7 linked regions of the Homo sapiens genome follow. The protein of the gene in region 1 purifies or fractionates together with the protein of each later gene. This does not show direct contact. Each region holds a gene or a part of one and is shown in the gene's direction. Other genes may lie near its edges.

Region 1 (3,500 bases):
TTCTTGTTTCTCCCAACCCTTCCACTTCTTCCTATTTTCATGTTTTCTCTCTCATTTCTCTTTTTCCTCTCCTTTCCTTGTGAGTTTAGATGGCATTGTGATTAAGTTCTCTGGCACAGGACTTGTCACTCAGCTTTGTCATGTCAGAGGACAGGGTCCCTCTGTGGCTGAGACTTTGTAACTTCAGTCAGTTGCTGAATAATCCAGAGTACTTCTGCTGACAGTGGCCTGAGCGGGTGGGGGGGAAGTGACGGGCAGAATTTGGTGTAGCCACACCTGAGACTGAGCCTCCCCTCAGCCCCGTGTCTGGCACCATCATGGTGGGTGGGACCAGAGGGTACATGTGAACACAGACAAAGATTTGTTTTGGGGGTGAAGGTAGAGCTTGGTCAGGGGAAGCCGAAGAAAGTCATATATCAGGAACAGCCCAGGAGTTAGCCTGTCTGTCCCCTTTCCACAGCAACAGGTGAGAAGAAGGAATGCTGGTCGTGGGAGTCCTACCTAGAGGAGCAGAAGGCCATTACTGCTCCAGTCAGCCTCTTCCAGGACGTGAGTTGGACAATTTCCCCGTAGGAACAGCTTGTCTTCCTAGCCTAGGGACACACCACCAACCTCAGGCCTTCTGGCGTTTTCTGTGTCAGGCATGCCTCAGTGGACTGGCAGAATGGAAAGGGAGAGACTGTTTAGGGGCCCAGAGTGGAAAAGGGCCCCCCATAAGGGGCTGGCAGGGTGGGAAGAAACAGAGAGGTGGAAGCTAGGCTCACTCATCACTGGGCCTGCAGACTTTTGAATTCTGGTGACTTCTACTCAATTCAGCATTGATCTTTCCATGACTTTGGTGAGAGGGAGCCCTTGAGTCCAGCCCTGACTCACCCACATTTTTCAAGGGACCTGGGAGATATTCTCTCTCTCTCTCTCTAGATCCCTGTAGTAACGATCCCCAAATAAGTTGCCCCTTTGGAAATACCAGGCGGGTGGGGCCTAAAGGCAGCTCCTTCACCCCAAGCCCACTAGGCAAGGATAAGGCTGGATGGAAGCTGGGTCCTCTCCACTCTGTGCGTTGACAGTCCCAGGCAGTCACTCACAACAAGAATGGCTTCAAACTGGGCATGAAGTTGGAAGGCATTGACCCTCAACACCCGTCCATGTACTTCATCCTCACCGTGGCTGAGGTGAGCTGGGGCTTGGTACCACCTTTCTGATGATGTCTCTCAGTGCAGATTGATGGATCTTGCTGGGGACATAGAAGGAAACACCTCCCTCCCCTCAGAGCACACACAATCTAGTAGTGGATGAAGCTGGAATACATAGAAAGCTTAAAACAACAAAAACCAGATGGAGTTCATGGGACAGTCCTATTATTGGATGAATGTATACTGTCCACTCTGGGGGAGCTTGAGGAGATCCCGAGGGCCAGGGATGTTGGCATGAGTCAAACAAGGTCCTTGTCCTCTAGGAGCTCACAGTTGTCTGGGGAATCAGCCAAATAAACATGTCAGTGACATGCCACAGGGGTGGCAGCAGACTTGAGCTGGGAGGCACAGTTGGGTCAGTTCTGTCTGAGGAGCAGCAAAAGCATAGAGGAAGGGCCTCCTTTGCAGAGTCTTGAGAGATAAGTTGTGAATAAGGAGGGAGCTCCAGGCAGAAGGAGCAAAGTGGGCAAAAGCCCTGGGGCATGGAACAGACTGCTACCTTCAAGGAATTGCCACTAGCTCAGCAAGACTGGAAGCAGAGTGCGAGTGGGGAGCAGTGAGAGAAGGTAGCAGAGGGAGCGGTCATCAGGAGCCCTCAGCAGTCCTGAGCCTTGGTGGCTGCCCTCAGAATTCTGTCCAGGGCTCAAAAGGGCAGGAAGCTGTCATAGGGTCCACCTCCCTTGCATCCAGAACTCAGGGCTCATGAGTACATGAACTGTCCTCACTGTAGAATAGGACAGGGTGGGGTACAATTGGGAGGAAAGAAAGGTGGGGTTGGGGAACCTGCTAGCATTAGAGCCCCTGAGACCACCAGACTGGGCCAGGAGAGGTGAGGCAGATGGGGAGTGGGGCATCTCCTGACATTGGAGTTCCTGATTCCCCTCATGGGGCCAGGTATGTGGCTATCGCCTACGCCTGCACTTTGATGGGTATTCTGAGTGCCATGACTTCTGGGTCAATGCCAACTCCCCTGACATTCACCCTGCTGGCTGGTTCGAGAAGACGGGCCACAAGCTGCAGCCTCCCAAAGGTAAGGCCTAGCTGGGTTGGTCACAGTGAGGCAGTGAGTCCTCAGACCCTTCGCTTCTTCCCCTTGGGTCCCCGGCTTCCAGCTCTTTTGTTTTCTGACCCTGTACCCTGTTCCAAAGCCAGCCTCTCTTCATCGCATCCTGATGACTCTGCGCTGGGGCCAAGTTGACCAGAAGCCCTAGAACTTCCGCTTTGCACTTGCCCTTTGAGTGTCTACTCAAGTCGTGTCCTGCTTCAGTAGTGGGGAATCCCTGGGCAAGTTCTTGAGGGTTGGGGGGAGGTCCTCAGGCATGCCTGATTCTGCTGCTTCACTGTGGGGTGCCCTTGCTGTGGCCCAGCCTCTGCACGGCGCTCTGTTCATGCCCCTCGAGGGGCCTAGGTTACAAGGAGGAGGAGTTCAGCTGGAGCCAGTACCTGCGCAGCACAAGAGCTCAGGCTGCCCCCAAGCACCTGTTTGTGAGCCAGAGCCACGTGAGTGCCCCTGAGTGAGAGTGGATGTCACTCCCATGTGCCAGAGTTCACTGCAGCTGGCCCAGGGTATCTGACTCATCAGAAGGGAGCTCATGTGCTGGTTCTCTCAGCTTTGTTCTGATCTCTCATATCAGATGGGAGGGGTACAGCTGGGCAGGGTCCAGGGCCAGAGATGGGAAGCTGGTTATAGGTTTTTCCCGACTTCCCTCCCTCCTTTGCTACTGCAGATACCCTGTCCTCACATCCCCTTGGAGCCCCTGGCCCACTACCCTAGTCTGAGCACTGAGATGTCATTGCTCATATATTCTTGCTTTGGCTTGCTCTGCAGTTCTTTGGTGTAAGGTCAATGCCTCTATTCTGGGAGCTTCTTTTTCTTTCCTTTTGCCCAACATTGAGACTCTTCCATTTATTTCCAACAATTCATCCCTTGTCCTTTCCTCTGTTCAGGGCAGCTGGCAGCTTATCCAGCAGTTAAAGTATCTCATAATCCCAACCAAAAGGCCTAAGAGATACAGGGAGCCTCCATTAAAAATATCATACTGGACCAGGTGTGGCGGCTCATGCCTGTAATCCCAGCACTTTGGGAGGCTGAGGCGGGTGGATCACCTGAGGTCAGGAGTTCAAGACTAGCCTGGGCAACATGGTGAAACCCCCATCTCTACTAAAAATATAAAAAATTAGCTGGGCGTGGTGGTGGGTGTCTGTAATCCCAGTTACTCAGGATGCTGAGGCAGGAGAATCGCTTGAACCTGGGGGGCGGAAGTTGCAGTGAGCCAAGATCACGCCATTGCACTCCGGTCTCAGCAA
Region 2 (3,500 bases), on another chromosome or scaffold:
GTGGGTCCAGGGTGTGATGGGCCATAGTCATCTGCTACCTGTCTTCCCCCAGATGGTGCCCACAGAACTTGTGGAGAAGGAGTTCTGGAGGCTGGTAAATAGCATTGAGGAAGATGTGACTGTTGAGTATGGAGCTGACATCCATTCCAAAGAATTTGGCAGCGGTTTCCCTGTCAGTGACAGTAAACGGCACCTAACCCCCGAAGAGGAGGTGAGTGGATGATTCATGGTTACGTGTCAGCTGTGTGAGCTTAGGCAAATCATTTAGTATCTGAAAAACTCAGTATCTCTGTAAGATGAGGATAATTATGCCTGTCTTATGTAGCCATGAGATTTAGATGAGATGAAAGAAAACAGTCTGGTACCTGGCATGTACAAACATGAGATGGGTTCTTTCGCCTCTGTGAGCCCATTTCCTTATCTTTAAAATGGGGATAATATCTACTTTGCAAATTTGTTATAAAAATTAAATGAGAAGGTATATGAGATCCTGGCTCATCCATAAGTAGTGTTCAGGGAGTGGGGTTTGTATGCACAGGAGAAAATGAGGGCCTAGTTGTGCTTCCAAGAAAGGGTACATTTTGATCCAGAGCAGGATTTTTTTAACTTGCAGGTATTTTGGTAGGTGGATATATCGGTAAACTTCGTAGAAATTGAAGTGAATACAATTGAAATTTTGTGTGTATGCTTTTTGGTGGAGAGGTAGGGAGAAAACCTATATGTTTCTTAAGATGTTTCAAAAAAGTCTCTGACCTCAAAATTAAGGTTCCCTAGGCTAAAGAAAATGACTTAAGATCTCAGTTCCTTAGCATAACCCTCATGCCCTTTTTACAAATACCTGACCTGGCAGGAGTATGCTACCAGTGGTTGGAACCTAAATGTGATGCCGGTGTTGGAACAGTCTGTACTGTGCCACATCAATGCAGATATCTCTGGCATGAAGGTGCCCTGGCTCTACGTGGGCATGGTCTTCTCAGCCTTTTGCTGGCATATTGAGGATCACTGGAGTTACTCCATTAACTACCTCCACTGGTGAGTGGGACCCTGGGGAGCCAGGGAATCAAGTCAGTGTGGGCTCCCTGCATGACCAAGGTGTGATTTACTGTGTGTGTCCCTTTTCCACTTGTGCAGGGGTGAGCCGAAGACCTGGTATGGGGTGCCCTCACTTGCAGCAGAACATTTGGAAGAAGTGATGAAGAAGCTGACACCTGAACTATTTGATAGCCAGCCTGACCTCCTGCACCAACTTGTCACCCTCATGAATCCCAACACCCTCATGTCCCATGGTGTGCCAGTGAGTACCCAGGCAACAGGGACAAGCGGCAGGAGTGATTTAGTGATGTCCTTTGTGATGGTGGTGGTGGCGGTGGTTGTCATCTGTATTCTGCCCCTGGCCTTTCTTCATTGCTGTTCTTAATTGGGCTACGGGTTTGACTAGTCTAGTAGAGACCCAAAATAATAGTGATTAGATGCACCGTATGATGGTATGCCCTCTGGGCCATGTGTTTGACGGTAACAGCTAAGGGGTGGCTTATTATCACATCTACATTCCAGCCAGTGGAAGAGGGAAGTGGGGAAGTGCAGGGCTAGACAAATCTTTTAAAGGCACACATCATTTCCATTCACCTTCTGTTAGTAAAAACTTGGTCATATGACCACATCTAGCTGCAGGGAAAACTGGGAAATGTAATTCTTATTTTGGATGGTCAAGTACCACTTAAAACTGGAGGTCATGTTGTTATGACAGAAGACAAGAATGAATATCGAGGTACAACTAGCAGCCTCTGCCATACTTTGTATACTCTTACCCTTCTCAGAGCAGTGGATAGGTCTTTTTATTTAACAGGTCAAAAGTTGAACCCAGAGTTCTGGTCTATCCTCTGTGTACTTCTTTCTTACCCTTTAAAACATTTTGCTGGGTATACAACATGGCTTACCTGTGAGAGACTTTATATTCCTGGGAATTTCTAGCATTGATTAGCATCAGCCAGTTTTCTGGTGTGGATCTTAAAACAGCCTGATCACTAGTCCTGTAAGAACAGGAATTAGTAGATCCTCTATCTCTGCTTTAAGTATTATCCGGGGCTGCTACTCTTCCCTACACCCTTCCACGCTCTTTGGCCTTGGACACATTACCACTTACTCTAATGTATGAGATAGTCAATAAATACTGAATTAATGTCTCCTTCAGATATTCCTAGATATCTGTACAGTAGGGCTTTGGACTAGGTCAGTGGTTCTCACCTGCATTTCTTTTTGCCTTCTCCTTGTTTTGGTATACTATATGCCCCATGAGTAATATTTTTTTATTATAAAATTTAGTGATATTTAACCAAGGACTTGGGATATCTAGGGAATTGGACAGAAGGAGGTGTCCTATAACAGTTCAGGCAATCTTCCTCCACTCAGGGAGTTATCCTTTTCTCTCTCTACCTCACCCCATTTAAGGATGATGATCAAGGGCTTGAGTTCTGCTGCTTTACAAGTAGACATGGGGTCTGACTTTCCTTAGACTTCTCTCTTCCTGACCCATAGCACAGCATCAGTCCTTGTCTATAATGCCATGGAAAACTGTAAAAGAGGATTCTCTTGGCCAGGCACGGTGGCTCACGCCTGTAATCCCAGCACTTTGGGAGGCCAAGGCAGTCAGATCACTTGAGGTCAGGAGTTCAAAACCAGCTTGGCCGACACGGTGAAACCCCAGTCTCTACTAAAAATACAAAAATTAGCCAGGTATGGTGGCGCACGCCTGTAATCCCAGCTACTCAGGATCAGGAGGCAGGAGAATCGCTTGAACCCGGGAGGCAGAGGTTGCAGTGAGCCGAGATTGTACCACTGCACTCCAGCCTGGGCAACATAGTGAGACCCTGTCTCAAAAAAAAAAAAAAAAAAAAAAAAAAAAGAGCCGGGTGTGGTGGCTCATGCCTGTAATCCCAGCACTTTGGGAGGCTGAGGCGGCCGGATCACCTGAGGTCAGGAGTTCGAGACCAGCCTGGCCAACATGGTGAAACCTCGTCTCTAATAAAAATACAGAATTAGCCGGGCGTGGTGGCACGTGCCTGTAGTCCCAGCTACTGGGGAGGCTGAGGCGGGAGAATCACTTGAACCCAGGAGGCGGAGGTTGCAGTGAGCCGAGATCGTGCCATTGCATTCCAGCCTGGGCAACAGGTGGAGAGACTCCATTTCAAAAAAAAAAAAAAAAAAAAAAGGATTCTCTGAAGGATTTGGGTAGCTAAGAGGCATATATATATATATGTGTGTGTGTATATATATATATATATATATATATATGTATGTGTATATATATGTATATATACATATGCAGAAGGTCATGGAGCTGTTTAGTCCTTACCGCTTTTTAAAAAACTTTATCACAGAATCCAAAATACGTGCTTTTTGCTTACACCTCCACAGCATTTCTCCTGCTCGTGGCTCATCATCTTCTCTGGCCAGCTGCTACTTTACCACCCAGCCCTCTGTCTGCCCTGCCCTTCCTATAG
Region 3 (3,500 bases), on another chromosome or scaffold:
GGTGCTGCCTGCTAGGTTGGGTGGGGAAGGGGTGGAGAGAAGTTGGTGGGGGCTTAGGAAGGACGGTGACCATTTTCTCGCCTACTAAGAGAAGGCAGTCAGCTAGGATTCACTGTGCAACACAGCTGGGCAGGAAGAAGAGAATCCCCTGTTTGTAAGAGAACAGTCACATACTAGATGCTGTCTACGGCTTGTGAAAAACACAAGGAAACGGCCACCTGAGAGTACTAAAGTGGCCAGGCCCACGGGGTGTGCTGCAAGCACACAGCAGGCATCTGCCTAGCCCGGCCCCTCTGCAGAGCCATAGGGCCTGCCATGCCAGTGACACTGGGCTTTGGACTGCCAAATGGGGCAAAGACAATAGGAGAGAAAGGCTGAGCTGATTTCTCAGTGGGACTGAGACGGAGATCTAGGGAGGCTGATGCTGCAGACAAGTGCAAGGGCCCTCTGTGGTCAGTTTCAGCTGGCCAGTTCTGCTCTCTGGAAACTTCAGTGTTCAATATTTAAATGTGTGGTTTTGTTTGTTTGTTTGTTTGAGATGGGGTCTCGCCTTGTCACCCAGGCTGGAGTGCAGTGGTGTGATCATAGCTCACTGTAGCCTCAAACTCCTGGGCTCAAGCAGTCCTCCCACTTCACCCTCCTGTGCTAGGATTGCAGGTGTGAGCTCCCATAGCTGGTCTTATACAAAAAAAAGTGTTTAATGTTTTCATGTCAAAGTTAAAACAAAGTGCTTGTACATGGTTTTTTCAAACAGTACACATAGATTGTGTATACAGTGCAGAAAGGGAAAGCTGTCATCCCTTCTACTGGTGGCCCCTGAGGTTTTATTCCCTAGGGGGATAACCGAGTGTGTAGACAGTTGTGCTGTGTCCTGCTGACATTTTTCCTTTTTCCTTTTTTTTTTTTTTCTTTTTTTTTTTGAGACGGAGTTTCGCTCTTGTTGCCCAGGCTGGAGTGCAATGGCGCAATCTCGGCTCACTGCAACCTCCACCTCCTGGGTTCAAGCAATTCTCCTGCCTCAGCCTCTGGAGTAGCTGGGATTACAGGCACCTGCCACCACACCCAGCTAATTTTTTGTATTTTTAGTAGAGATGGGGTTTCCCCATATTGGCCAGGCTGGTCTCGAACTCCTGACCTCAGGTGATCCTCCTGTCTCGGCCTCCCAAAAGTACTGGGATTACAGGTGTGAGCCACCGCGCCCGGCCCTGCTGACATTTTTCTGTGTCCATGTGCACCTAGGTGAGCACACAGAGCTGATTTTGTCTGGGGAAAATGGGATCCTGCTATACACACCATTTTGCAGCCTTTTGAAAAATTCATTAATGTATCTCAGACATCCTCCGTGACAGTCACAGTGCCTACCATTGTATATGTCATCATTTAGTAATTTCCCACTTACTGATGACATTTTAAAATTTTTCATTAAAGAAGAGCTGGGCTCAGGCGTTCACACCTGCCATCCCAGCACTTTGGGAGGCCAAGACAGGATGATCACTTGAGTTCAAAAGTTTAAGACCAACATGGACAACATAAGGGGACCCTCTCTACAAAATTTTTCTTTTTTTTGACGGAGTCTCACTCTGTCGCCCAGGGTGGAGTGCAGTGGTGCGATCTTAGCTCATTGCAAGCTCCACCTCCCGGGTTCACGCCATTCTCCTGCCTCAGCCTCCGGAGTAGCTGGGACTACAGGCGCCCGCCACCATGCCATGCTAATTTTTTTTATATTTTTGGTAGAGACGGGGTTTCACCATGTTAGCGAGGATGGTCTCAATCTCCTGACCTCGTGATCCACCCGCCTCGGCCTCCCAAAGTGCTAAGATTACAAGCGTGAGCCACCGTGCCCAGCCAAAAAAATGTTTTTTTAATTGTCCCAGCTACTCAGGAGGCTGAGGCAGGAGGATCCCTTGAGCCCAGGAGTTGGAGGCTGCAGTGGCTATGATTGCACCACTGCACTCCAGCCTGGGTAGCAGTGGAAGACCCCATTTCTAAAATAATAATAATAAAAAATTCCTTTTTTATACTTTAATATTCACTTATCATAAAATAAATGTTTTAGTTAAAATGTCATAAAGCTAGAAATGAACTCTCTTAGGACCCCATCCTTCAAAGACAACCTGTGCTTTCTTAATTGCATTGTAAATGTTTTAATAAAGTAATTTTTTTTTTCATTTTGCTAGCTAGCTAGGTAAAACATTTTCATGGTTTAGGACTTAAAAGGAACAAAAGGGTATATAGTGAAAAGTTGATCTCCTTCCTACCCCGAACTAGTGTTAAGATTCTTGAATGTCCTTTCAGGTATGTTCAGGCAGACGCATATATTTACACACATACAATGGAGCCAGCTGTATACACTGTTTAGTACCCTAGTGTTCCTCCCTGGCTCCCCAGCAACGTATTTTGAAGATCTTTCCATTTCACAAGTATGGCTGCCTCATTCCTGTTGATGGCTGATAGTATCCTCTGCAGAGATACCGCCGTGGATTTAACCAGTCTTCAGTTGATAGGTATTTGGGTTGTTCCCCTTTTTATTATTATAAATTGTTCCTCAGTAAACATTTGTATATATGTCATTTTGCACATGTATGGGTCTATCTAGAAAAACTTACAGAAGTGTAATTGCTGTGTCTAGGGGGATAATTTTGATAGCTGTAGCTCAGCTGTTCTACAGCCCACTGCCCTTGCTATCTCCAGTAGCTCCCGTGGGAAGTGGCCTTCCCCAAACCCTCAGCAGTGCAACTCAGGTGTTTGGATCTCTGTCAGTTTCACAGCAGAAAAATAGAATCTCCTTGTTTTAATTTGCGTTTCCCTTATGAGAAGGGTTTAGCATTATTTCCAGTACCTAAGCTATTGGAATTTCCTTTCCTGTGAGCTGTATGTTTATAGCCTTTGCCTGTTTTCCTAATGGCTGTTGTTTTTCTTACTGATTTAAGGACTTCTTTAGATATTGAAGGAGGGTATCCTTTATATGTGATATGAGTTATTAACAGTCCAGTACATACATTTTAACATTAAGTTCAGTACACTTAATGAAGAATCACAGAATTTGTTTTTTCTTGCACTGAACACCTACAGTGTGTAGCACTGATAAATGCTTCATCCCCCCCAAGAGTAGAGCCACTGTGTAAGGCTGCACTTGTTATGTACTGCAGAAGCCAGGGGTGCCATCAGTAGACCTCATTGTGAGCAGGCCCGTGTCCCAAATTGCATGGGAGCCCCTTGTCCACTAATTAAAGATTGACAAGTGAAAGGCAGCTTGCTTACCCGATGTAGCACTTGGCAGCTCTCAGAGGCAGCCTTGGTGGTTTCACTGCTTCATAGTTCAGTGCCCCCAGGGTGAGTGCAGCATCAGGGATGGACCTGCCCACGTGAAACCAGAGAGGCTGGTCTTTGGCAGTGGCTGTGAATTGTTGCCACCAGCCGTGTGTAGACAAAAGTCAAGTTGGAGTAAGTGGGGAGAGGTCTGTATAATGCAATGCAAGTTTTTATGACTTGAATTAGTT
Region 4 (3,500 bases), on another chromosome or scaffold:
TGAAAAGGCTTTGGTGACCAGTCAAAATTCAGACTTGCTGGATGATGAAGAAGTTGAAGATGAGGTGTTGTTAGATGAGGAGGATGAAGACAATGATATTACTGGAAAAACAGGAAAGGAACCAGTGACAAGTAATTTACATGAAGGAAACCCTGAGGATGACTATGAAGAAACCAGTGCCCTGGAGATGAGTTGCAAGACATCCCCAGTGAGGTGAGTACCTTGGGTGACTTTAGAAACTAAGCTAGAGTAGATCCATGTACGGTTGCAATTCCTCCTGTGATAAGCAATTTGTGAGTTATAAATCACAAAAATTAAACTTGAATTAGTAAGGGATACATGGTGGATCAGATTTAAATAGATGAAAATAAGGTGGCTATCAACATAATCCACAAGCATATAAATACATCAGGTTTGGTGCAACTCTGATTAACCTGAGGTGGGAAAGATAAAATGAAAATTACATAAGTACACAATCATTTATTGTTAGACTCTACCTATAAAACTCAAAGAAAAATAGAGATTTTGACGTTATCTAATTATACAATAATCTGGCATGGTCATCAGTTAAGTATAATTGAGATAAACTTCACTTCAGTAGATATATATGTGATCTATATAGATGATAACTTTTTAAATGAAAAGAAATAACCAAACAGTTAAATTGATGGGACTATTATATTTTCATGATGGATGTTGACTAAATATTGTCATAATTAGCTTTACTTTAAATGGAAATAATGAATATATGAATTCTGTCTCTGCCTATTACTGACTAATGTGTCACTGACTTTAACTCTTTATCTCAAATATATGCTTGGCTTTAGTTACTAAAAATCTTAACAGAAATATATTTTTAAGACATGATGTTTGTAAGTATTTATAAAAACCCAATAATTGATGCATGCTACTTTACCTTGCAGATACAATATGAAGTTTGTCAGTTGTATAGATAGATTCAAATGAAAGTGATTTGATTAGATAACAAATGAAAAGAAAATTTCTGTGTTTTTCGTTGGTTCATTTTAGGTATAAAGAGGAAGAATATAAAAGTGGACTTTCTGCTCTAGATCATATAAGGCACTTCACAGATAGCCTCAAAATGAGGAAAATGGAAGATAATCAATATTCTGAAGCTGAGCTGTCTTCTTTTAGTACTTCCCATGTGCCAGAGGAACTTAAGCAGCCGTTACACAGAAAGTCCAAATCGCAGGTACAGATTTTCCCATAGTACAGCATCATGGTTACATTATGCATGAAACGTACATTTCCTTTGATTACCAAAAAGCAAATATTCTATCTTTGAAATATTTTAGAATCCAAATGGGGTCAGATGCCTTTCTAAAAATGTTCATATCTTTACTGTATTTATGACCAAATCCAAAATAGTTAAGCAAGAAAGCAATTAATTTAGCTGCATTCTGTATAGAAATTTTATGACAAGCCCCATCCTACACTTATCTTTCCTTGACTTTGCAATTCTCTTACTTTTGTACAGTTAGTTCATCATGTTTGTTTACAAATATTTATGTATTACCTCAGAGTCATTTTCCGTGTCTATACTTTTGTCAATGTAATTATATTTTAAGATTTTTCTGAAAAGTGAATTCTATTTTTTGTCCCCTTCTATGTCTAGTAAATTGTTAGGTGTAGTTAATTAGCAAGTCATCTCATGTTGTAATTTAATAGTAAAATGAGGATCAGAAAGGAAGTGAGTTGCCAAAGGTCTACACCAACTTACTGGCAGATTTGGAAATAAAACCTGTCAATTTAAATTCAACAAATGAATGAGTGAATGAATGGTACTCAAATTTATTAGGCTCTACAACATTGTATCAGCACTATGGTAACTAAAAATAAATCTATTTAAGGGTCCATAAATAGCAATTAAAAGAGCCTCAGTGTTTTTGTTACAAAATAAAGGAAGTCGGTACTTTTTTGTTTGACATCCACACTCAACCGGATTGTTCATTCAGGTCAATTAAAAATAAAGAAACTTCCTATTACCATATTTATTGGGCACTGTGGTCTAATTGCCTGATCCATTAGTTCATTTTGTATGTGGCCTGACCTGCAATGTGACCATATTAGTTTGTACATTTGGAAATGATTTTCTATTTGGGTAAGATGTCTGGGTTTGTCTTAACAGCAAATGTAATAATATCCCAAGGAAGTTGGGAAAAACATTGTGTCAATGGGATAATACAAATCATTAAATAATATTCAATTTAGTAAAAAGTTCTGAGATATTATGTATGGTAATAGGTAAAATAAATGTTCTTTCTCAACTGAAGTTAAAGCAGCCACCATCTACAGAGGCTCCTAGAGCCTACCTCCATGAACTTAAGAACATCACTTAAAGACTATAGGTACCATTTCTTCATTGTAAAAGGGGTAAGTGGATTTTTATTCAATGGGGATAAAAATGAAGTTTCCAGTTTTTAACATTAAAGGTAAACTAGCTAGAGTAGACATTTCATTTTTACTTAGAGACATCCATAAGGGGTGGCTAGTATTTTTTTTTAACCCTTGATTTCCCATTCTTCCATCCTTGTTGATTAGAGATAACTTGAGTATCAAGGTTTTTGGTTTTTTGTTACTTGTTTCTTTGTTTTTGAGACAGGGTCTCACTCAGCTGCTAAGACTGGAGTGCAGTGGTGCAATCACGGCTCACTATAGCCTCGACTTGCTGGGCTCAAGTGATCCTCCCACCTCAGGCATCTGGATAACCGGGACTATTGACACTCACCACTATGCCAGGCTAATTTTTCAATTTTGTGTAGAGATGGGGTTTCACTATGTTGCCCAGGCTGGTCTCAAATTCCTGAGCTCAAGCAATCCTCCCACCTCAGCCTCCCAAATTACTGGGATTTGTATAGGTGTGACCCATTGCACCTGGCCATGGTTTTTTCTTTTTAAATTTCTTTTAATTAGTCCACCAAAAATGCTTCTTATTTATTGTAAGATATAATACCTAAACACTCCAGAAACTGCCAGAAGTGACAGAAAGCAAAAGGGCCTGAAAACCTACAGATAAGGGATATAATTATAATACATTTTAGTACCAGCATTTTGACATAAAGTCCCAACCCAGCTGGACTGTTACTGTTATAAGAAACACTAGCATTTTGCAATCCTAAGTCATATTTTTCTTGTTACTTGATCATGTTATATAGATTAGTTTGAAAATGGTCAGGCCCTTTTGCAAATTCACTTTATTTCATAATATCATTCATTCGTTCATTTATTAACTACCAGCTATATGCTGGGCACTGATCCTTATATATGAAAATGTTTATTTCCTTTGATTACCAAAAGGCAGATATGCTGTTTTGCCATTTTCTAGAATCTAAAGGCTCAGATGCTTTAGTCAAAGCATTCATATATTTATTCTGTAATTTTTATAGTCTGTAATTTTTATAGTGATTGAATTGAAAATAGTTGACCAGTACAATAGTAGCTGCATTTTGCATGTGCTCTCCCTCAAGAAACTCTATCCG
Region 5 (3,500 bases), on another chromosome or scaffold:
CGTCTGCCCGTGTGAAAAAATCTTCTTGCTCTCGTATAGTGCTTAGCTGTGATGACTCCGTTAAGATCACTTTCAAATGTGAAACAGAATATGCATTCAGTTTAGACAGCAAATATACCAACAACCCACTGGAGAAAACTGTAGTAAGAGCATTACATGGGTGAGTATGAGTGAAACTTAGTGAAAATGGATGAAACTTTTCTGTTGAGATGAATGTAGTGAGATGGGGAAACTTATGCCAAACTCTGGAGAAGGAGAAAGAAGTGTTGTGTTTAAAACCAGTAATTTGATAATAACATCAAGCAAACATGTTTCCTGGCAATTAAGAGTAACAGGCTGGTTTTCCCCCTGTGCTCATGTGGAGAAGTTTTTAAAGATAATTTTAGCCTAATGAATAGCTTTCCATTTTGCAATGCTCCCTCGTAAGCCCTTGTGGCTTTTGAATTTCAATTTTTAGATGAGATCTTAATGTAAAATAGTGTGAGATTTAGAAATAATGCTTTACAGACTGAATTCCAGAAGAAACATTTTAAAAATCACTGTAGCTTGGTAAATTGGTCAGATTGATAGGAGTAAGCAGTTTCACATAAGATTGTTCTATAGATCTCCCTTAAGAAGGAATCAAGTCAGTAATAACAGAGTGGTGAACAGCACAGGCTTTGGAGTGTAGACTAACCTAGATTTGAACCCGGGTTCTTTCCCTTTCTTACCTCCTGTGATCCTGGGCAAGTTTCTTGCTTCTGGACAGTGCTTCTTAATTGTGTGTGCTGCTCATCTAGAGATTTCACTGAACTGCAGATTTTGATGCATTCTCCTTGGGAGAGGCCTGACATTCTGCATTTCTAACAAATTTTCAGGTGATATCAATGGTGGATGACAGTCTGTGGCCAACATTTAATTATGTAGCTGTGTCCTGAGGTTACATATATTGAGATGCACAGTGACTGGCCAGTAGTAGTAATAAATGGTAACCATCACTGTTAGCAAGCATTCATTAGCTATATGAATTGACATTCAGCTCCCTATTAATGAACTGTTTCACATCTGACTATATGGACTCTACAGCTGTCAGGCTTTCTTCTATACACCTGTTCATATATACTCATAAGGGTCATTTCCTTAGAACTTCCTGTTTAGCTATTGCCCAACTCTGCAGCCCCCCTGACTTATGGTACTCCAGCGATCTGCCATCCTTTTGCCTGCCAGGTGGCCAGAAATGTTTTCTATTTCCCCTTACTGTTTCAGGATATTTTGCAGAACTGTAGTCTGAAAATAGTATAGTTCTGTTGAATTGCCCAGAGAGATATTTTATCTTCAGACTTTCTCAATTATTAGAAGAGAGACACAAAAATGGAAAATAAATGAATCAGCCAGACTTAGCAAAAGCATGGTGATGAGGATTTGGGTATTGGCGAAACCATTTCTATAATAAGTATTCTGTGTCCAGAGTGAATTTGTATGGTGTAAAAGACACGTGCTACCCATGTTCAGATCATGGTTCTGCCATACAGGTTTTGTGATTTGAAAGAAGGCAATTACATGTTCTGATTCTCAGTTCCCGTCTCTGTAAAATGAGTGGGTTAGATGGATAATTATTTGTTAAGTCAACTACATATTTACTCATTCATGTTTCATATCTGTAAATTTTAAAAATAAAAACAAAAACTAAGGAATATTGGAGGCACTTGCTTATGATAAGGTAATCAACTAAAATAACCATTTTCAATGATTTTCATGTGTTCTTTCTGTAAACTCTTAGGCCCTGGAATACTGATTTGCCTGATAATGTGGAAGAAGTGAAGCTTTTACTTCATATGTGGGTAGCTCTGTTTTACAGCAATCAGAACAAAATCATACGATCTTCCCGAAAGGTTGTAGAACACAGCAACCCAGCAAAATATGTGTCTATAAATAGCACGTTAGAATCTTGTGAGCTCCGTGAAATTGAGGAGTCCCTTGGTTTGGAAAAATGTTCTGCAGACTCTCTGTTGGAGACTAACGAAATTTCCAGGGCTCATGCTGCTGAAGTATCCTTCCGTGATCCTAACTGCTTGCTTCCTTTCATTAAAACACCACTTACCCAAGGCTTGGAACTCTGTGTACAAAATGAACAGAAAAAAACTTTTGCAAGAGAGTGTGATCCAGACACCCAAGAAGACCAGAATTTCATCTGTTCTTACAATAATGAGGTATGTAAAGCTGAATACCGTTAAATGTTGGCATTATTTTTGAAGAAAAAAATGTTTATATGTAAAATCACATTCAAAACAAGGCATTTTTAAATTTTAGGACAGTGAATTCTCAAGGTATGTAAAGAACTATTACACCAAAAACCTAGTTTTCATGAAGTGTCCTTGAATTGTCTGCAGGTAGAGCTTACCTGCCATCCCGATTGAAAAAAACCAGAGTAGAAAAATGTCACAGGGTCCACATGATCTGGGAGCCCAGCATAATTTGGGGCAAATTGCTTCTTTGCCTAATTTTTAAAAGAGGTGACTTAATACCTATCAAGTCTTATGTAGAATATTGTTTAAGGATCAAATATAGCAATAATAAATCTTAGATATACTTTGATAAACCTTAAAGTAAACTAAAATTAATTGTATTAAAATTATTTTTGAAGACAGATGCTGGAATAGTAAAATGCCAGACCTGTGAAAGAAGACCCATTGCAAATAACTATTTGTAAATATGGAAAATATACTTTGTTTTGTTCCTTGTTCTCAACTGACATTCAACCAGGCCAGATAATCCAAATTTTACCTGGAGCAAATCTAAAAGTTGTTAACAAAATTCTAAGCAAATGAATTGACAAAATTACCTACCTTTTAAAGTTTTCCGCCCAAATTTATTCTAGAATAATATTGCTTGGGTTTGGGCAGCATCTCTGATTCCTGTCTTAAGAAAGAGTAGACAGTGTTCCTATACCCGGGGTCACCGGGGACTTGGAGGTCCTTGGGTGAGCCTCATAGAACCCGTGAATATCTTCAAGTGATTGTCATCATCATGAGAATTAAAGATTTCTGGGTCACTGTGTGCCAGAAAGTAAGAGTTCTAAGCCCTTCACTCATATTAACTCAGTTCATTCTCAAATAAGTTAAAGACTATTAATCTCCCCATTACATAGATGACGAGACTAAAGCATAGAGAAGTAAAGAAATTGCCTAAAGTCACATAGAAAATTGTCAAGCCAAGATTCCAGTCTAGAAAACCTAAATGTTAACTATGTATGTGCTTTTTTTTTCCCCTAAAGATGGGGTTCAGCAGTTCCATCCTATTCTCAAAGAATTACATAAAATCCAGTTAAGAATCACCACCTTAGAATAAGAAAATATAGTCTAGTCAGGGAGATTTAAATTAATACATATATACATGCTAGTTTCTTATAAAATACCATTTGTCGTGGTAATATGTAATTAACTATCATCAGTACTAATTTTAGCAATGATTTTGGCAAGCCTGACTGTTCAAATCAGTGATTCCTAACAATCTCCTTAGTA
Region 6 (3,500 bases), on another chromosome or scaffold:
TGCACAACGTGCAGGTTTGTTACATATGTATACATGTGCCATGTTGGTGTGCTGCACCCATTAACTCGTCATTTAGCATTAGGTATATCTCCTAATGCTATCCCTCCCCCCTCCCCCCTTTTTTTTCTTTTTGAGAATGAGTCTTGATCTATTGCCCAGGCTGGAGTGCAGTGGCCCGATCTTGGCTCACTGCAGCCTCCGCCTCCCGGATTCAAGTGATTCTTGTGCCTCAGCTTTCCTGGTAGCTGGGATTACAGGCGCCTGCCACCACACCTGGCTAATTTTTGTGTTTTCAGTAGAGATGGGGGTTTCACCATGTTGGCCAGGCTTGTCTCGAACTCCTGACCTCAAGTGATCTATCTGCCTTGGCCTCCTAAAGTGCTAGGATTACAGGCGTGAGCCACCGCCCCCGGCCGATCATCTTCTGTCTTTCTAGAGAAGAAGCAGCCCACTTGCATCTCTTGAGCATTTACTTCATGTTTCTAAATATATGTTTGTATTGTCATGTCTTTATTCACCAACTTTAGGGGTCGACTATGGACTTCCATTAATGGTGAATTAGTGTAAGATTTAGATTAGAGAAGATTTTTGTTCTCTTATGTTCATCCTGCCCCAATCAGAATGTATGTTCTTGGCCAGGGCCAGCAGCTCATGCCTGGGAGGCCGAGATGAGAGGATCCCCTGAGCCCAGGAGTTTGAGACTAGCCTGGGCAACAGAGTGAGACCTTGTCTCTACTAGAAGTAAAAAAGTTAGCTGGGTGTGGTGGTGGTATGTGCCTGTAGTCCCAGCTACTTGAGGGGCTGAGGTGGGAGGATCGCTTGATCCCAGGAGGCCAAGGCTGCAGTGAGCTGTGATTGTGCCACTGCCCTGCAGCCTGGGTGACAGAGCAAAATCCTGTCTCAAAAAAAAAAAAAAAAAAATACAGCCAGGCGCGGTGTCTCACACCTGTAATCCCAGCACTTTGGGAGGCTGAGGTGGGTGGATCACGAGGTCAGGAGATCGAGACCATCCTGGCTAACACACAGTGAAACCCTGTCTCTGCTAAAAATACAAGAAAATTAGCCGGGTGTGGTGGCGGCCGCCTGTAGTCCCAGCTACTCGGGAGGCTGAGGCAGGAGAAGGGCGTGAACCCGGGAGGTGGAGCTTGTAGTGAGCCAAGATCATGCCACTGCACTCCAGCCTGGGCGACAGAGCAAGACTCCGTCTCAAAAAAAAAAAAAAGAAAAAAAAGAATGCATGTTCCCTCTGCCTGGTACACAGCATCATCCAAAGGAGTCTCCTCACCTTTCCCTGTGTCTGATGCTGCTCACTGTTTATTCCCTCCTGGTGATGGAACACACTCTCCGTTAGCTAGCCAGGAAGGTGTGGTAAGCGGTGAACTTTTGGGGTTTGCGTGTCTGAAAATGTATTTACTCTTTTTTTTTTTTGAGATGGAGGTCCGCTCCGTCGCCCAGGCTGGAGTGCAGTGGCACTATCTCTGCTAACTGCAGCCTCCGCCTCCTGGGTTCAAGCGATTCTCCTGCCTCAGCCTCCCAAGTAGCTGGGATTACAGGTGCTTGCTACCACGCCTGTGCCTGGCTAATTTTTGTATTTTTGGTAGAGACGGGGTTTCAACTTCTTGGCGAGGCTGCTCCTGAACTCCCAACCTCAGGTGACCTGCCCACTTCGGCCTCCTAAAGTGCTGGGACTACAGGAGTGAGCCTCCGCACCCGGCCGCAAATGTCTTTATTCTGCCCGTGCGCTTAGTAAGTTTGGCTGGTAGGTTGGAAAGTCATTTTGAAGTCATAGCTCCAATATCTTTCAGTTTTCATTGTTGCTCTTGAGAAGTCTGGTTTGGTCTTTTTTCTTTTTGAGACAGTCTGGAGGAGTGGTTCAATGATAGTTCTCTGCAGCCTTGACCTCCCGGGCTGAAGTAATCTTCCTGCCTCAGTGCCCTGAGTAGTACCTGGGACGGCAGGTGTGTGCCGCCATACCCGGTTGATTTTTCTTTCTTTCTTTTTTTTTTTTTTTTTGAGATGGAGTCTTACCCTGTTGCCCAGGCTGGAGTACAGTGGCGCCATCTCGGCTTACTGCAACCTCCGTCTCCTGGGCTCAAGTGGTTCTCCTGGCTCAGCCTCCTGAGTAGGTGGCATTAACAGGTGTGTACCATCACGCCCAGATAATTTTTTTGTATTTTTAGTAGAGACGGGGTTTCACCATATTGGCTAGGCTGGTCTTGAACTCCTGACCTTGTGATCTGCCCACCTCAGCCTTTCAAAGTGCTAGGATTACAGGCCAGGCATTAGGCACTATGCCCGGCCTCTTTTTTTTTTTTTTTTTTGAGACATGGTTTCACCCAGTCTGGCATCCAGTTGCCCAGGCTGGCATGCAGTGGTGTGTGATCTTGTCTTTCTGCAACCTGCCCGGTTCAGGCAATTCTCCTGCCTCAGCCTCCCGAGTAGCTGTGATTACAGGTGGGCACCACCACGCCTGGCTAATTTTTGTAATTTTAGTAGAGACAGGGTTTCGCCATATCGGCCAGGCAGGTCTCGAACTCCTGACCTCAAGTAAGTGATCCACCTTCCTCAGCCTCCCAAAGTGCTGGGATTACAGGTTTGAGCCACCATGCCTGGACTCCAGCTGATTTTTGTATTTTTAGTTGGGATGGGGTTTTACCATGTTGGCCAGGCTGGTCTCGAACTCCTGACCTCAAATGATCCATCCGCCTCAGCCTCCCAAAGTGTTGGGATTACAGGCGTGAGCCACTGTTCCCGGCAGTGATTTTTCTGTTTTTGTAGAGACAGGGCCTTGCCATGTTGCCCAGGCTGGTCTTGAACTCGGCCTCCTGAAGTTCTGGGATTAAAGGCATGATCCACCGAGCCTGGCCCAGTTTCATTCTTCTTTTTTTTTTTTTTGAGATGGAGTTTTGCTCTTTTCACCCAGGCTGGAGTGCAGTGACGCGATTGGGTTCACCGCAACCTCCACCTCCTGGGTTCAAGTGATTCTCTTGTCTCAGCCTCCCAAGTAGCTGGGATTACAGGCTCCTGCCACCCCGCCCCGCTAATTTTTGTATTTTCGGTAGAGATGGGGTTTCGCCATATTGGCTGGGCTGGTCTAAAATTCCTGACCTCAGGTGATCCACCCGCCTCAGCCTCCCAAAGTGCTTGGATTCCAGGCGTGGGCCACCTTGCTGGCAAGGCCCAATTTCATTCTTAACCGTTTGCAAGCACTATTCCCTTGCCGAACCTTTAGGATCGTTGCATCCGTGATTTTCCTAATATTTATCATGCGTTTAGTGCTAGCCTTTTGTTATGTATTATGCAGGTGCCTAAGTAGCTGTGAAATCTGAAGATTGACACCCTTTCATTATAGGAGGTTTTTTGTTGTTGTTGTTGTTGTTGGAGAGAGACAGTCTCACTATGTTGCTCAGGCTGGTCTTGAACTCCTGGGCTCAAGCAAGCCTCTTGCCTCAGCTTCCAAGTAGCTGGGACTACAGGCACGTGCTACCATGCCTGGCTAA
Region 7 (3,500 bases), on another chromosome or scaffold:
GATACTGGTGGGTGCTGGCATTCCTGGCTATGGCCCATGTCCTTCCAGTCTACGAAAGCAGCATTTTCAGTTCTCTCTGCCATGTCTTCTTCTTCTTCCTCTTTTTTGGAGACAGAGTCTTGCTCTGTTGCCTAGGCTGGATGCAGCGACGTGATCTTGGCTCATTGCAACCTCCGCTTCCTGAGTTCAAGCAAGATTATCCTGCCTCAGCCTCCTGAGTAGTTGGGACTACGGGCGCGTGCCACCACGCCCAGCTAACTTTTGTATTTTTAGTAGAGACGGGGTTTCACCATGTTGGCCAGGCTGGTTTCGAACTCCTGACCTCAGGTGATCTGCCCACCTTGGCCTCCCAAAGTGCTGGGATTACAGGTGTGAGCCACTGTGCCCGGCCTCTCCGCTTGTCTTCTCATTGCCTTCAGTGTGTGTCTCGTTCTTATAAGGATACATGTGATTGCACTGTGGTCCACCCAGATAATTCGGAATAATCCTCCCTCTCAAGATCCTTAATTTAATCATATCTACAAAGACTTCTTCTTTTTTTTTTTTTTTTTTTTGCCATATGAGGTAACATTGTCAGATTTCAGGGATCAGGGTGTGGAAGTCTTTTGTGGGGCAATAGTTCAGCTTATCCCACTCAGTCGTTTATAATAGACTTTTAATGTTCTTACTTTTATTTTATAGTTTAGTTTTTAACAGGCCCCCATGTCCACTTCTGGGTTGGTGGGAGATGATGGCATTGGGTGGCAGAGAAAATATCTCATCTTTTCTAGATACGATGCAGAAAATTCTAGGTCTGTGGTTCTAGGAAGGACAAATCAGAGATGATAGTTTGGAAATAAAACAGTTAAAGTAACCTAGCTTGAGAACAGAGGTAGGTGTGGTGGTGCTATTTTTTAAAGAATAGAGAATTTAGAAGAGTCACAAGCTAGTTTCAGGTATGGGGAGGAGGAGATATGTAGAGTGTGGGACATACTGAGTTTTCAGAAGTTCTGAAATATGGTAAAATTAGTAATGGTGGATATATTTTTGGCAAATGCATGTTCAGTGGATTGTTGGTGTAGAAGTCACTTTATACTAGATTAAAGATTAAATTGAAGATGGGGAGTATTGATACATTCTATTCTCTAGAATAATGATGCTTGGCATTTAGTAAGTAATCAGTGTTGGCTATTATGATAATTACTGTGGTTGCTCTAACAAATTACTTTGTTATATACTTTTATGTGTATATACTTTTATGTGTTCCAATACTATAACATTTTTGTCTTCAGCTGTTTGGTGTGTGTCTTGATATGTACATAATATTAAATAAATACTGATCTAGAAAGATGTGTGTTTTAGTAATTATTTTAATTATTGCCATTGCCATACTATTAAAATTAATGAAAACAATTTAGAATTTTTTTTAAAAAAAAGAATTAGTTTCAATTTCTCATTTGAATAGATTATTATTTCTCAAAAAAAGCAGTGAGGTTGGGGGGCACTTAGCAATAGTTTCCTAAAGATTAAAATGATGGTATTCTGGTTGAATGGTTTTTTTATGTTATATCAAGAAATATAATTTGGTTTGTGTTTTTTCATTTAAAATAATAGTGTATTGTAGCTATGGTTATTCATGCCTGAAACAAAAAATTAAACCTTGGTCATTGTGTGTATTTCTTTCAGGTTTGATTTAATTTTGGATGAGATCGTTCTTGCAGCAAGATGTTAATAAGACAAAATCTAGGTAAGTAGAAGACTGCTTTGTTAAATGTACATATCAAGGTAGGAATAATACAAAAAAATTATGTCTTAAAAATGTGGTGTTGAGTTCAGAACCAAAGAGTTTTTAAATAAAATTTTGAAATGCAAATAATTGACTTTTTGACACACTTGGTCCAGTTGATTTGATGGGAGTAAAATTATAACTATCACATTGTGGAACTAAATTTTTAGTTTCCTTCTTTTGTGTTGAGGTTAACTAAAGCATTCAAGTTTCCAGTGAATATTCTAAAATGTTAGAAAATCAAGTTAATGTTTGGTTCAGCCACTCTTATTGAACTCTGACCACTTCAGTAAGACATTTATTGTGTCACTTCATTGTTCTCTCCTTTGTTGATAAAGTATATGAATAGTCATTGCTTTTGTGAATTTTGCTTCATTTTTAATGTTAAGGAAGCACTTTCCCAAATGGGATAAATTTGCCAAATTGTGATTTCTTTCTGTTAATATAGTATTCAAAATTGTAAATTATTGTTTTAATGTTTTCCTAGTGGGTGTCTCTACTGAATGACCTCTCTAATATAGCATTCTGATTAGCTTTCTAAGGCTGTTCACTTTTAAAAAATTGAATTGGCATCATGTACTTTGGTATGTGAAAGAATGCTTTTTAATAATATAAGCCGTTGACATGTTTTAAAAAGATACATTTACTATTTATTGGTAAGTGAATATGGCTTCAAAATGGAAACAAGGGAAAAAGAACATTGAAAAAATTGGAGTTAACTTGGTTTTCCCTCTAACCAGATGTTTCAGCTGTCAAAAATTTGCTGATCTCAATGTTTGTTAAAGAAAAAAAAAGTCTAGGATGAAAAGTGCTGTAGTTCAGTAATATGCACTGAAGGAAATCTCAGTCAGTGGTTTGGGCATGTTTTGAAGCAAAATTTTGCTTTTATTGCTATTATATAATAATAACAGTAGTGGTAGTTTGAAGAGTACTTATTGTGCTCTAAATTCTGTTAAGTGCTTGTCATACCTTATTGATCGTTATAGTACCTCCTCTTGTTGTGTAGAAAAATTTTATTTTTTGCTTTATAGTGGGCTGTTTTTCTTTAGGAATAATAATTTACTTCTGTAGCATTTATTAGAAATAACACTTGCCTATGTATCTTCTTAAAGTGGAGAAGAAGCCATTCTTTTGTACTTGAAGGTCTTATTAGGGTTTGTTTTCTAGTTGAATATACAGTGTCTGTTAAAACTTTTGTTCTGATTTTCTATGTTTGATATTGCTTGTGGGATGACACTGGTTTAACTTATTCTGACCTTATTTTTCACCATGCTTATATATGTAGTTTTTTCTTTTTTATTATGGTATAGTTTACATATATATGGTAACATAAAATTTGAGGTATAGAGCTGAATGACTTTTCACATACACATTCATATGTGTAACCACCATCTAGATCAAGATATAGAACATTTCATTACTTTGGAAAGTTCCTTGTGCTTTCCCCGCTTCCAGTCTAATAGCCTTTTCCCCTGAAGTAATCATCTTTCTGAATTCTGTCAGCATAATTTAGTTTTGCCTGTTCTTGGATTTTATATATAGTATGTACTCTTGTATGTGGCTTTTTCATTCAACATAATGTTCTTGAGCTTCATCTATGTTGTGACTATGTCAGCAGTTCATTATTTTTTATTGCTGTTTTATTTTTAGTAATATTCCATTGTATGAACACACTACAAAGTATTTATGTTTTCTCAGTGATTTGGTTTATTGGATTCTCCATATCTCTGTTCCT

Evidence for each region.
Region 2: the proteins of L3MBTL1 (region 1) and KDM5C purify together in Homo sapiens (tandem affinity purification; one study listed by IntAct). This does not show direct contact.
Region 3: the proteins of L3MBTL1 (region 1) and TUBB6 purify together in Homo sapiens (affinity purification with mass spectrometry; one large-scale study listed by BioGRID and IntAct). This does not show direct contact.
Region 4: the proteins of L3MBTL1 (region 1) and MECOM purify together in Homo sapiens (affinity purification with mass spectrometry; 2 studies listed by BioGRID and IntAct, with this or other methods). This does not show direct contact.
Region 5: the proteins of L3MBTL1 (region 1) and TASOR2 purify together in Homo sapiens (affinity purification with mass spectrometry; 2 studies listed by BioGRID and IntAct, with this or other methods). This does not show direct contact.
Region 6: the proteins of L3MBTL1 (region 1) and EHMT1 purify together in Homo sapiens (affinity purification with mass spectrometry; 2 studies listed by BioGRID and IntAct, with this or other methods). This does not show direct contact.
Region 7: the proteins of L3MBTL1 (region 1) and ZNF644 purify together in Homo sapiens (affinity purification with mass spectrometry; 2 studies listed by BioGRID and IntAct, with this or other methods). This does not show direct contact.

Annotation. Positions count from the first base shown.
Region 1 is NC_000020.11:43,528,197-43,531,696, forward strand, and holds part of L3MBTL1 (lethal(3)malignant brain tumor-like protein 1), read left to right. Parts: intron 1-460; coding exon 461-549; intron 550-1,006; exon of another isoform or gene 1,007-1,067; coding exon 1,068-1,172; intron 1,173-2,087; coding exon 2,088-2,223; intron 2,224-2,601; coding exon 2,602-2,693; intron 2,694-3,500. UniProt on the Homo sapiens protein: Polycomb group (PcG) protein that specifically recognizes and binds mono- and dimethyllysine residues on target proteins, thereby acting as a 'reader' of a network of post-translational modifications.
Region 2 is NC_000023.11:53,208,208-53,211,707, reverse strand, and holds part of KDM5C (lysine-specific demethylase 5C), read left to right. Parts: intron 1-52; coding exon 53-211; intron 212-850; coding exon 851-1,032; intron 1,033-1,131; coding exon 1,132-1,294; intron 1,295-3,500. UniProt on the Homo sapiens protein: Histone demethylase that specifically demethylates 'Lys-4' of histone H3, thereby playing a central role in histone code. Does not demethylate histone H3 'Lys-9', H3 'Lys-27', H3 'Lys-36', H3 'Lys-79' or H4 'Lys-20'.
Region 3 is NC_000018.10:12,318,241-12,321,740, forward strand, and holds part of TUBB6 (tubulin beta-6 chain), read left to right. Parts: intron 1-2,295; exon of another isoform or gene 2,296-2,422; coding exon of another isoform or gene 2,423-2,504; intron 2,505-3,500. UniProt on the Homo sapiens protein: Tubulin is the major constituent of microtubules, a cylinder consisting of laterally associated linear protofilaments composed of alpha- and beta-tubulin heterodimers.
Region 4 is NC_000003.12:169,086,713-169,090,212, reverse strand, and holds part of MECOM (histone-lysine N-methyltransferase MECOM), read left to right. Parts: coding exon 1-213; intron 214-1,029; coding exon 1,030-1,213; intron 1,214-3,500.
Region 5 is NC_000010.11:5,740,338-5,743,837, forward strand, and holds part of TASOR2 (protein TASOR 2), read left to right. Parts: coding exon 1-160; intron 161-1,759; coding exon 1,760-2,189; intron 2,190-3,500.
Region 6 is NC_000009.12:137,622,005-137,625,504, forward strand, and holds part of EHMT1 (histone-lysine N-methyltransferase EHMT1), read left to right. Parts: intron 1-3,500. UniProt on the Homo sapiens protein: Histone methyltransferase that specifically mono- and dimethylates 'Lys-9' of histone H3 (H3K9me1 and H3K9me2, respectively) in euchromatin.
Region 7 is NC_000001.11:90,980,536-90,984,035, reverse strand, and holds part of ZNF644 (zinc finger protein 644), read left to right. Parts: intron 1-1,665; 5' UTR 1,666-1,682; coding exon 1,683-1,726; intron 1,727-3,500.